Homo sapiens: one gene and its partners. The protein of the gene in region 3 purifies or fractionates together with the protein of the main gene of each other region. This does not show direct contact. Each region holds a gene or a part of one and is shown on either strand. Other genes may lie near its edges.

What was found.
Region 1: the proteins of AHCY (region 3) and ARCN1 fractionate together in Homo sapiens (co-fractionation; one large-scale study listed by BioGRID). This does not show direct contact.
Region 2: the proteins of AHCY (region 3) and PYGL fractionate together in Homo sapiens (co-fractionation; one large-scale study listed by BioGRID). This does not show direct contact.

The regions. Positions count from the first base shown.
Region 1 is NC_000011.10:118,592,853-118,596,505, reverse strand, and holds part of ARCN1 (coatomer subunit delta), read right to left. Parts: coding exon 3,650-3,653; intron 2,917-3,649; coding exon 2,808-2,916; intron 2,503-2,807; coding exon of another isoform or gene 2,440-2,502; intron 1-2,439. UniProt on the Homo sapiens protein: Component of the coatomer, a cytosolic protein complex that binds to dilysine motifs and reversibly associates with Golgi non-clathrin-coated vesicles, which further mediate biosynthetic protein transport from the ER, via the Golgi up to the trans Golgi network.
Region 2 is NC_000014.9:50,920,342-50,923,994, forward strand, and holds part of PYGL (glycogen phosphorylase, liver form), read right to left. Parts: coding exon 3,628-3,653; intron 727-3,627; coding exon 615-726; intron 283-614; coding exon 200-282; intron 1-199. UniProt on the Homo sapiens protein: Allosteric enzyme that catalyzes the rate-limiting step in glycogen catabolism, the phosphorolytic cleavage of glycogen to produce glucose-1-phosphate, and plays a central role in maintaining cellular and organismal glucose homeostasis.
Region 3 is NC_000020.11:34,279,644-34,283,090, reverse strand, and holds the end of AHCY (adenosylhomocysteinase), read left to right. Parts: intron 1-1,925; coding exon 1,926-2,057; 3' UTR 2,058-2,823; downstream 2,824-3,447. UniProt on the Homo sapiens protein: Catalyzes the hydrolysis of S-adenosyl-L-homocysteine to form adenosine and homocysteine. Binds copper ions.

The DNA of each region.
Region 1 (3,653 bases), on a different chromosome or scaffold from region 3:
CTAATTCTGATTCTGATCTCTTCTAATTTGATCAGTTCTAGACAACGGGAGTAAAATGTTGTGTAAGGGTCTCTTCTGGAGACCATTGCAAAACTGAACTAGAATACAGGAAACCACCACAACCACAATTATAGGGTAGACAGGCCTCAAAATTGTAGCATTCTATAAATAGTCTAGTAAACTAAATCTTGACAAACAAAACTCTACCTGTCACCAACACCCAAGTCCTACAACAGTTCAAGGCAGCCATCTATTGTTCTGAAGCAATAACCATACTGTAGAGGATAAGATGGTTACCCATTAAAGGGGATACTGGTAATAAAGTATATTTTTAAAATTGGAAACAAGAATGACTAAAACCAGACCTGATAATGTAAAGGCTTGAATTATCAAAAAGGGAAGAAAACTATGAATTAAATTAGTACTTTTTTTTTTTTTTGAGACGGAATCTCGCTCTGTCACCCAGGCTGGAGTGCAGTGGCGCGATCTCAGCTCACTGCAAGCTCCGCCTCCCGGCTTCACACCATTCTCCTGCCTCAGCCTCCGGAGTAGCTGGAACTACAGGCGCCCGCCACCAGGCCCAGCTAATTTTTTGTATTTTTAGTAGAGACGGGGTTTCACTGTGTTAGCCAAGATGGTCTCGATCTCCTGACCTCGTGATCCGCCCGCCTCGGCCTCCCAAAGTGCTGGGATTACAGGCGTGAGCCACTGCGCCTGGCAAATTAGTACCATTTTCTCTGCAGCAATAACTGAGCGACATAACAGTAAAGATACACTAAGAATACACTTACTGGTGCTCATAATTAAACATTGTGCTTAATCATGAGGGCTGATGGGTAGGTGAAAGGAGCTAGGATTTACTGTGAAGTAATAACTGCATGCTCACTGTAAATGTTACTAAAAAGATAAGGTAGAGACCATTTCCAGTTGATCCTAGATAGTGGGCCATTTAAGTGTACAACAAAAGCTTATTGGAACTCAACTTCTGGGGTTGACATGACATTTTTGTTATCTTGATTATGGTGGTGGTTTCACAAGTGTAAACATGTCAAGATTATACAATTAAAATATGTGTAGTTTATTGTATATAAATTATGCTCCAAAAGGGCTGTTAGGAAATTTACTGTAACTAATGTAGACATCTTGTTCAACAAGAATCAACAGTTCCCTTGAACACACTCTCATCTTTAGTGAAAGTTTAGAGACTAGCACGTGAAAATGAAACATTCAGCCCGATAGACTCAATTTCTTTGAAACCTGCAAAACAGAAAGTTTGACTGACAAATGGCTCCTCCTTCTGGAAATCTTCATTACTACACAAACAAGCTGAGGACCAACATCTAAAAACAGCTCCAGGCCAGGTGCAGTGGCTCACGCCTGTAATCCCAGCACTTTGGGAAGCCAAGGCAGGTGGATCATTTTGAGGACAGGAGTTTGAGACCAGCCTGGCCAACATAGTGAAACCCCATCTCTATTAAAAATACAAAAATTAACTGGGCGTGGTGGCACACGCCTGTAATCCCAGCTACTTGGGAGACTGAGGCACGAGAATCGCTTGAACCTGGGAGGTGGAGGTTGCAGTAAGCCAAGGTTGCACCACTGCACTGCAGCCTGGCTGACAGAGTGAGACTGTCTCAAAAAAATAAAAATAAAAATAGCCAGGTGCGGTGGCTCACGCCCATAATCCCAGCACTTTGGGAGGCCAAGGCGGGCAGATCATCTAAGGTCAGGAGTTTGAGACCAGCCTGGCCAACATGGTGAAACCCCGTCTCTACTAATAATACAAAAATTATCTGGGCATGATGGCACATGCCTGTAACCCCAGTTACTCGGGAGGCTGAGGCAGGAGAATCACTTGAACCTAGGTGGTGGAGGTTGCAGTGAGCCGAGATCACATCATTGCACTCCAGCCTGGGCAACAAGAGTGAAACTCAGTCTCCAATAAAAATAAAAAATAAATAAATAAATAAAAACAGCTCCAGATCTACAACTGGCTTGTTCAATTTGGTTTTAAAGTCAGTAAAATCCATCCCTTCCAAGTGCTCAATGTATTTCAACAAGTGTATGCAGTAAGCACCACCACAATCAAGTCACAGAGCAATTCTTGGCTGGGTGTGGTGGCTCACGCTTATAATCCCAGCACTTTGGGAGGCCGAGGCGGGCAGATCACTTGAGCTCAGGAGTTTGAGATCAGCCTGCACAACACAGCAAAACTCCGTCCCTACAAATAATACAAAAATTAGCCAAGCGTGGTGGTGTGCGCCTGTAGTCCCAGCTACTCGGGAGGGTGAGGCAGGAGGATAGCCTGGGCCTGGGAGGTGGAGGGTGCAGTGAGCTGAGATCGTGCCAGTGACCTCCAGTGACAGAGTGAGACTCTGTCTCAAAAAAACAATTTCCTTGCTTTACTTATTTATAAATATGAAATGTTTCATAACTTACATGTCAGCCTTGCACAGGGCCCATGCTAATCTTCTCTGTATGGTTCCAATTTTAGTACCTGTGCTGCCAAAGCAAACACAAGTCCTAGAACATTCCTATCATTCCCAAAAGTTCCCTTGTGCCCCTCTGAAGTGAAGTACCTTCTTCTCTACCTCCTCATTTTTATTCAATAGTATTACCTTTTCCAGAAAGACAAAGAAGTGGAATCACATAACATGCAGCCTTTTGTATCTGGCTTCTTTCACAACTAGCTTTTTAAAGAAGTATCTTTGAATGGACAGTCAGGTCAGGTAGGTGCTGACTCCAAAATGAGTTCCAAAAGACCAGTTCTCTAAGTCCACCGTAGAGGACACAGGGACAGCACTTACGGGAGTGGGATGGTGATAACCACATCATTCAGTTCTAAATTATCTTCTTGTAGCTCATATTCTATGTTGACATCACAGCCATTTCCACTCTCCGAGGGCCAGCAATTAACTGAGGAGAAAGCAAAGCAGTCATACTAGAATATTAGAAAAAGATGGCTGGGTGCAGTGGCTCATGCCTGTAACCCCAGCGCTTTAGAGGACCAAGGTGGTAGGATCGAGGTGGGAGGATTGGTTGAGGCCATGAGTTCAAGACCAGCCTAGGCAACAAAGTGAGACTCCACCTATACCAAAAAAAAAAAAAAAAAAAGCCAGGCGTGGTGGCACTTCCCTGTTCTCCTAGCTACTCAGGAGGCTGAGGTGGGAGATCAGCTGAACCCAGGAGTTCAAGGTTGTAATGAGCCATGATCACACCACTGCACTCCAGCCTGGGTGACAGAGGGAGTTTGTGTCTTTTAAAAAAAGTTAGCTGGATGTGGTGGCATGTGCCTATAGTCCTAGTCCCAGCTACTAAAGAGGCTGAGGCAGGAGGATGGCTTGAGTCCAGGAGTTTGATGCTGCAGTGAGCTATGATTGCCCCACTGCACTCCAGCCTGGGCAACAGAAGAAGACCTTGTCTCTAAAACAATAACAACAACAAAACTACAATGGTTTCAAAATGAAAGCTATTAAAAATGAAAACTAATGATAAAAATATACAAAATGCAGCACCAGGTCCATTTCAAAAGAAAGTCATTTTGTCAGAAAGAACTTTGCTATGGTAATAAAAATAAAAGTGTACCAGCAAGGGCTATTTCTAGTTCTCAATGCAAACTAGCTTAGTGGGACTGGCCAGAGGCACTTACTTGT
Region 2 (3,653 bases), on a different chromosome or scaffold from region 3:
ATTCTGATTTCATGCACTATACAGATTTGTTTTCCTTACTTGGTTGGGAGGAGAAATCTACACAATTCAGGAAGAAATACGGAGCTTGTTCTGCACATGGAAAAACATCAATATTAAATGTGTTTTATAGGTTACTGAACAGGCTCTTGTGAAATAAGCTGCCTCTGTTGCCACTAAGAAAGCAACCTTGATCACTCACATTGTCATTGGGATAGAGGACCCGGGAGATGTTCTCGGCCAGGTTTCGGTCCAGCACAGCCTGAATGTAGTCTCCAACATTAACTAGGGGAAAGTTAGAGAAACAATAAATAGAGAAACCAGCCATTGTTGTTGGAAACCTCTTGATCTCACTGGCTCTGTGCTGTGTGTCATGTGGGATTCCTAAAATTCCTAAAAATCCCAAAGGATTTCAACACACCGTCATGCTGGACTTCACATGAGAATTGCTTTAAAAATGCCCTCCCTACTTCCTCCATACAATGCCTGCTTAGTCAGTGAAGTTCAGATCAGAAACTCAAGGCTTTTTTGTTTGTTTCAAGCTCAATTTGGTTCTAACTACCAATCAAAAAGATTAAGCACACGCATAAAGAAACCAAGGCCTGTGCTGTACTCACAGTCTCTGAGGTTAAAGTCATTTGGTGCCCGAGCAGACCAGAGGCGCATGGTGTTGACAGTGTTATTCATGTAGCCGGGCACGGGGGTGTCATATGGCAGAGCCAGGACCACCTGTGGGATTAAACAGAAGCAGCTGCTCATTGTTTCCCAAGTGTGATGACATAGGTTGAACAAGGGGCTGGGAGACTGCAATGGAATTCTATTCCTGGCTCCATTACCAACTTAAATTGTGTGAGGCCTAAATGGAGAAGAGGGTCTCAGGGCTGCAGAGGGTATTAGAGGAACATGTGGTTCCTCCCCGACCTGGTACAATCTAGTGACTGAAACCATCCACACTGATGGTCCTTTACAGTATTTCTATGTTGACTCTCCATGTGCCCTTGCCCTGATATAAATGCAGTGGAATGGAATGATATGGTATTTGTATTCAAAAAAGTTTATCTTTTTTTTTTTTTGAGACGGAGTCTCACTCTGTTGCCCAGGCTGGAGTGCAGTGGTGCAATCTCGGCTCACTGCAAGTTCACACCATTCTCCTGCCTCAGCCTCCCGAGTAGCTGGGACTACAGGTGCCCGCCACCATGCCCGGCTAATTTTTTTGTATTTTTAGTAGAGACGAGGTTTCACCGTGTTAGCCAGGATGGTTTCGATCTCCTGACCTCGTGATCCATCCACCTCGGCCTCCCAAAGTGCTGGGATTACAGGCGTGAGCCACTGCACCCAGCCAAAAAAGTTTATCTTTCATGTTTCAGATAAAGCCATTGCTCTAATAATAATAAAATATGATATGCAAACAAAGTGACATTGTGAATCTGTACCCACCAAAAAATAGCACTTAGAATATGTTTTGCATAGGTTTTTCAGTGATCTGATTTCAAGTATGATGAAAGTAAATGGAATAGGAAATTTATGAAGCTATAACATCTCATATAATATTTAAAATGCTATGCTAGATTTTTAAAGTTGCATAAGGAGTTATTTTAGTGATTCCTACAGTGATCTGCCAAATCAGCTGATAATTAGCTGAGTTGAGTCTAAGAGGTAAGCTTTGGAAAATCTAGCTTGATCTTTGTGACAGTCACTGAAATAGAGAAGAGGAAGATTAACTATGTTTCACAGTGCATCGAAAATTCAAGTGAGAAATCATTCATTTTTATTCCCGGCCTCATCAGAGTCAAGCTCGAAGGAAGGAGAATGACAGAATAATTGAACTGGAGGATGCTGGATCTCATTTAGTGCAACCCACTTATTTTGGACATGAGGGAGCTGAAGCTGAGAGAGAAGTGACTTGCCCAAGATCACAGTCATGGCAGGATTGAAACTTAAACACGCATCTCTTTAATTTGGTCTGCTGAATTGTGAATGAATGAAGCATTATGGCCCATATCAATCACATATACTCAGTCATACTTTCGTGATCACCGCGACCTCAAAGTAATAAATCACCCTCATTTAAATATCTTTCATTAAGAGATAAAAGTCTCTGGACTTTTAAAGCAAGTTGTAATCAATCAGGGAAAGTCATTTGCAGGCTGGGATTGAGTCTCGGTTCAAACAAGAGTTGGACCCTTCTGACCCTTGAAGCATAATTAAGGCAGCCCAAGAAGTGCACAGCTTAGATCTTCTTTCAGAGAACCTCAAAGAGGACTTGCTCCCTCAGAGCTCACACCAAAGCTGCGCTCTCTGGGACACTCCATGTGGCTGGGACACTAGGGCCGAGACTTCTCTAATGGGCAATCTTTAGTGTCAGGCTCCATCAGCCTGGCCACTTGCTCAGAGTGGCACTGTGGTCTGAGGCTCTCCCTGAGAATGCTGCTTCTTTCCCCTTCACTTTTCACAGGTGGCACACCTGTGTCACAGTCTGAAGCCTTCCCACCTCATCCTGCTCCCTCTCCCCTTTGTCTTTCATAGGCATCCCCCAATATGTCACTTGCACTTCTCATTCTCTCTGGTGTCTGTTTCCTAGAGGACCTAAACTGACACGTGACTGTGTCATTTGACTTTATTGGAAGCCATCCCATGCACGCACAGAGCACATCTGGACTCATGCTCTGACATCACTGGGTACCAGTTTGGGGTTAATTCATGTGATGACTTCAATCTATGAGGCTAAGTTGCATGGCTTGGGCCAGCTCACTTATATTACCTCTGCCCCCTAACCTTGCCTCTGTTGGCCCAGAAACACACACTCTCTCTAATTGAATTTCTGGATACATTATGACAGTATCTAGAGGTGTTTTGTAAATGCAAGTTAGCTCAGCAGTGGGACCCACAGTGTAAATAAAATGCTTCCAGGATTGATTGTGTAAACTGCAAACTTTTATTTTTATTTTATTTTATTTTATTTTTTTTGAGACAGAGTCTCACTCTGTTACCCAGGCTGGAGTGCAGCGACATGATCTCAGCTCACTGCAACCTCCACCTCCTAGGTTCAAGCGATTCTCCTGCCTCAGCCTCCCATGTAGCTGGGACTATAGGCATGGGCCACCACTCCTGGCTAATTTTCGTATTTTTAGTACAGATAGGGATTCACCATGTTGGCCAGGCTGGTCTTGAACTCCTGACCTCAGGTGATCTGCCCGCTTCGGCTTCCCAAAGTGCTGGGATTACAGTTGTGAGCCACTGCACCCAGCCAGGAATGACATTTCAAATTATTCAATTTTGCTATCAACACCTTAATATAAAACCAAAGAGGTAAGCATGCTGGTTACTATAGAACTGACAATTTTCTGGCAAAAAAAAAAAAAAAAAAAAAAGAACTGACAATTTTCTGACAAAGCTGGTTGCAAAATGACCCTTATAAAAGTCACTCCTCTCTTGGCCTCAGCTCCTTTGTCTCCAAAATGACTGGGCTGCGCTAAGAGAAGTAACAGATTTATTTACAAAAATATATTCTATTATTCAAAACACGACATGCCCTATACTCAATATCACCACTATATGCTACATAGTCAATGTATTATCTACTGTACTAAATACTATACAAAACGCTGGCTATACGAGCACTCTGAATACTTGAGTGTCAATCCACTTGGTCCCGG
Region 3 (3,447 bases):
AGTTCTAGGCTGGGCCCTGGTCCTACTGTTGCCCGCCTCTCTGCTGAGCACATCACCTTCTGCAGGCTCTTTGCTTCATCTGAAGATACAAGGATAAACCGCACCCATCCTACTTCTTAAGGGTGTTTGGGAGGCTCTAATGAAACAGTAGATGTGAAACCACTTGGGAATGTAAAAGCTGTGGGCTGAGCTGTGGTCAGAGGCCGCCATGCCATCATGGGACAGGATGGGGTCCCTTAGGGGTAGGGAGAGGCCTACCTCATGAGAGAGTTAGAGGCTTGCTTGTATTTAACTCTTGCCTCTGTCCTCCTCGGTTTCTGCATAATCTCTTCAAAGCTGCTCTAGAGGCCATAAGCTGGGATGCTTGAGACACATTTTGGGGCTTTGAAGCCAGATAGACCTGGGTTCAAATCCTAGCTCTGTCATTCACTAGCTTGGTGACCGTGGACACGTCATTTCACGTTTCTGAACCTTGATTTCCTCATTTTATAAAAGGAGGATGGCAGTGGATTAGAATCCTTTTGGTCACAAGTGATAGAAACACTATTCAAACCAGTGTATCAGTTATCTTGCTGCATAACAATCTAACCCCCAGACTTACTGGCTTCAAATAATAAATATTTATTATTTCAGTTTCTGTGGGTCAAGAATTTGAGATCAGCTTAGCTGGCTGCTTCTGACTCAGGCTCTTTCATGAGGTTGCGGTCAAGATTTCTGCCAGGGCTGCAATCATCTGAAGGTTTGACTGGGTCTGGAAGATCCTCTTCACATCGCTGTTGACAGGAGGTCTCAATTCCTCATGCATGGGCCTCTCCAGAGGGCTGCTTATGCATCCTCAGGAGATGGCATCTGGCTTCCCCCAGAGTAAGTCATCCAGAGGAGAGCAAGGAGGAAGCCACAGGGTCTCTATGAACTTGTGTCCAAAGTCACACACCATCACTTCTGCTTTCTTCTATTCATTAGAAAGGAATCACTCGGTGGGGTGGGGGGAGGCGGTGGGGATTAGGCTCTAATTCTTAAAGGAGTATCAAAGAATTTATAGATACATTTTAATCAAAAAAAGCAACCAGTTTAATCCAAAAAAGAACTTTATTCTCGAATCTGCCAGGCACGGTGGCTCACGCCTGTAATCCCAGCACTTTGGGAGGCTGAGGCAGGCAGATCACCTGAGGTCAGGAGTTCGACACCTGAGGTCAGGAGTTCAAGAACAGCCTTACCAACATGGTGAAACCCCATCTCTACTAAAAACAGAAAGTTAGCTGGACGTGGTGGTGCACGCCTGTAATCCCAGCTCCTCGGGAGGCTGAGGCAGGAGAATCACTTGAACCTGGGATGTAGAAGTTGCAGTGAGCCGAGATCGTGCCACTGCACTCCAGCGTGGGCGTCCGAATGAGACTCTGTCACAAAAAAAAGAACTTTATTCTCGGATCCAAACACTGGAAACCTAGGATTCCGTGTCATCATGGCTCTGTCCTTCTGTCTCTCGGATCTATCTTCATTTCACTTGTAAAATAGACTTGGAACTGGTGAGCTGAGATTGATAGATACCCTTCCCTGTTTAGGAATCCCAGTGGGGTTGGAGCACCTTGTCTCTGCCTGTCATGGAAAATATGTCCTGTGCATAGATCAATTCCAGAGAAGCATTTTGGTTAGCTGCTTGAGTTGAAGAATGAGGAAGGAGATGTGATTGATGGTCCTGTCAAGCCACATGTAGGGGAGGGTGTGGCATGGTTCCCTTTTGAGGGGGGCTGGGCAGCCAAAACAACACATTAACTGAGGCTGGGTGTGAGGATAGAAAGAGTTAACATGAGTACCACACATGGCAGAAACCCTAACAGAACACTTCTGCCTCTATTGGCAGCCAGACGCGTGTAGGGGTCCCAGAAAATGGCACTGATTCCCGGTCTTCCTTTGTTTCTCCCCAGCTGGATGAGGCAGTGGCTGAAGCCCACCTGGGCAAGCTGAATGTGAAGTTGACCAAGCTAACTGAGAAGCAAGCCCAGTACCTGGGCATGTCCTGTGATGGCCCCTTCAAGCCGGATCACTACCGCTACTGAGAGCCAGGTCTGCGTTTCACCCTCCAGCTGCTGTCCTTGCCCAGGCCCCACCTCTCCTCCCTAAGAGCTAATGGCACCAACTTTGTGATTGGTTTGTCAGTGTCCCCCATCGACTCTCTGGGGCTGATCACTTAGTTTTTGGCCTCTGCTGCAGCCGTCATACTGTTCCAAATGTGGCAGCGGGAACAGAGTACCCTCTTCAAGCCCCGGTCATGATGGAGGTCCCAGCCACAGGGAACCATGAGCTCAGTGGTCTTGGAACAGCTCACTAAGTCAGTCCTTCCTTAGCCTGGAAGTCAGTAGTGGAGTCACAAAGCCCATGTGTTTTGCCATCTAGGCCTTCACCTGGTCTGTGGACTTATACCTGTGTGCTTGGTTTACAGGTCCAGTGGTTCTTCAGCCCATGACAGATGAGAAGGGGCTATATTGAAGGGCAAAGAGGAACTGTTGTTTGAATTTTCCTGAGAGCCTGGCTTAGTGCTGGGCCTTCTCTTAAACCTCATTACAATGAGGTTAGTACTTTTAGTCCCTGTTTTACAGGGGTTAGAATAGACTGTTAAGGGGCAACTGAGAAAGAACAGAGAAGTGACAGCTAGGGGTTGAGAGGGGCCAGAAAAACATGAATGCAGGCAGATTTCGTGAAATCTGCCACCACTTTATAACCAGATGGTTCCTTTCACAACCCTGGGTCAAAAAGAGAATAATTTGGCCTATAATGTTAAAAGAAAGCAGGAAGGTGGGTAAATAAAAATCTTGGTGCCTGGAAGAATTTTGAGCCTTTATTTTATAGATAATCCTCTGCCAACAATGTATGCCATGAATAGGGGGTTATAGTCGTGCTGATGAAGCATTCACGGGGTACTCTGCAGTGGAACGGCTGTCTGTGGTCCTTAGGCTTGAAAGAATGGGTAAAGTGAAGAGGGAACTCTTTCGTTTTTTTTTGAGACAGAGTCTCGCTCCGTCACCCAGGCTGGAGTGCAGTGATGCAATCTCAGCTCAATGCAACCTTCGCCTCCTGGGTTCAAGCGATCCTCCTGCCTCAGCCTCCTGAGTAGTTGAGATCACACCCAGCTAATTTTTTTTTGGTATTTTTAGTAGAGACGGGGTTTTACCATGTTAGCCAGGCTGATCTTGAACTCCTGACCTCAAGTGATCTGCCTGGGATTATAGGCGTGAGCCACTGTGCCCGGCTGTTTGCAGTATTTTTAAAAGTGCACTAAGTGGGGACTCACATTAAGTTCTAAAGATACAATGTCAAGTAAAACCCTTAAGTCACACTCAATGGCCCATGATCAGTGAGGCATGAGGGGCTGAAAACTGCTCACTCTGGCTTAGATGCTCATCAGTGTGTCCTGCCTGACAATTAATTCTTACCTTTTCTTTTTCCCTG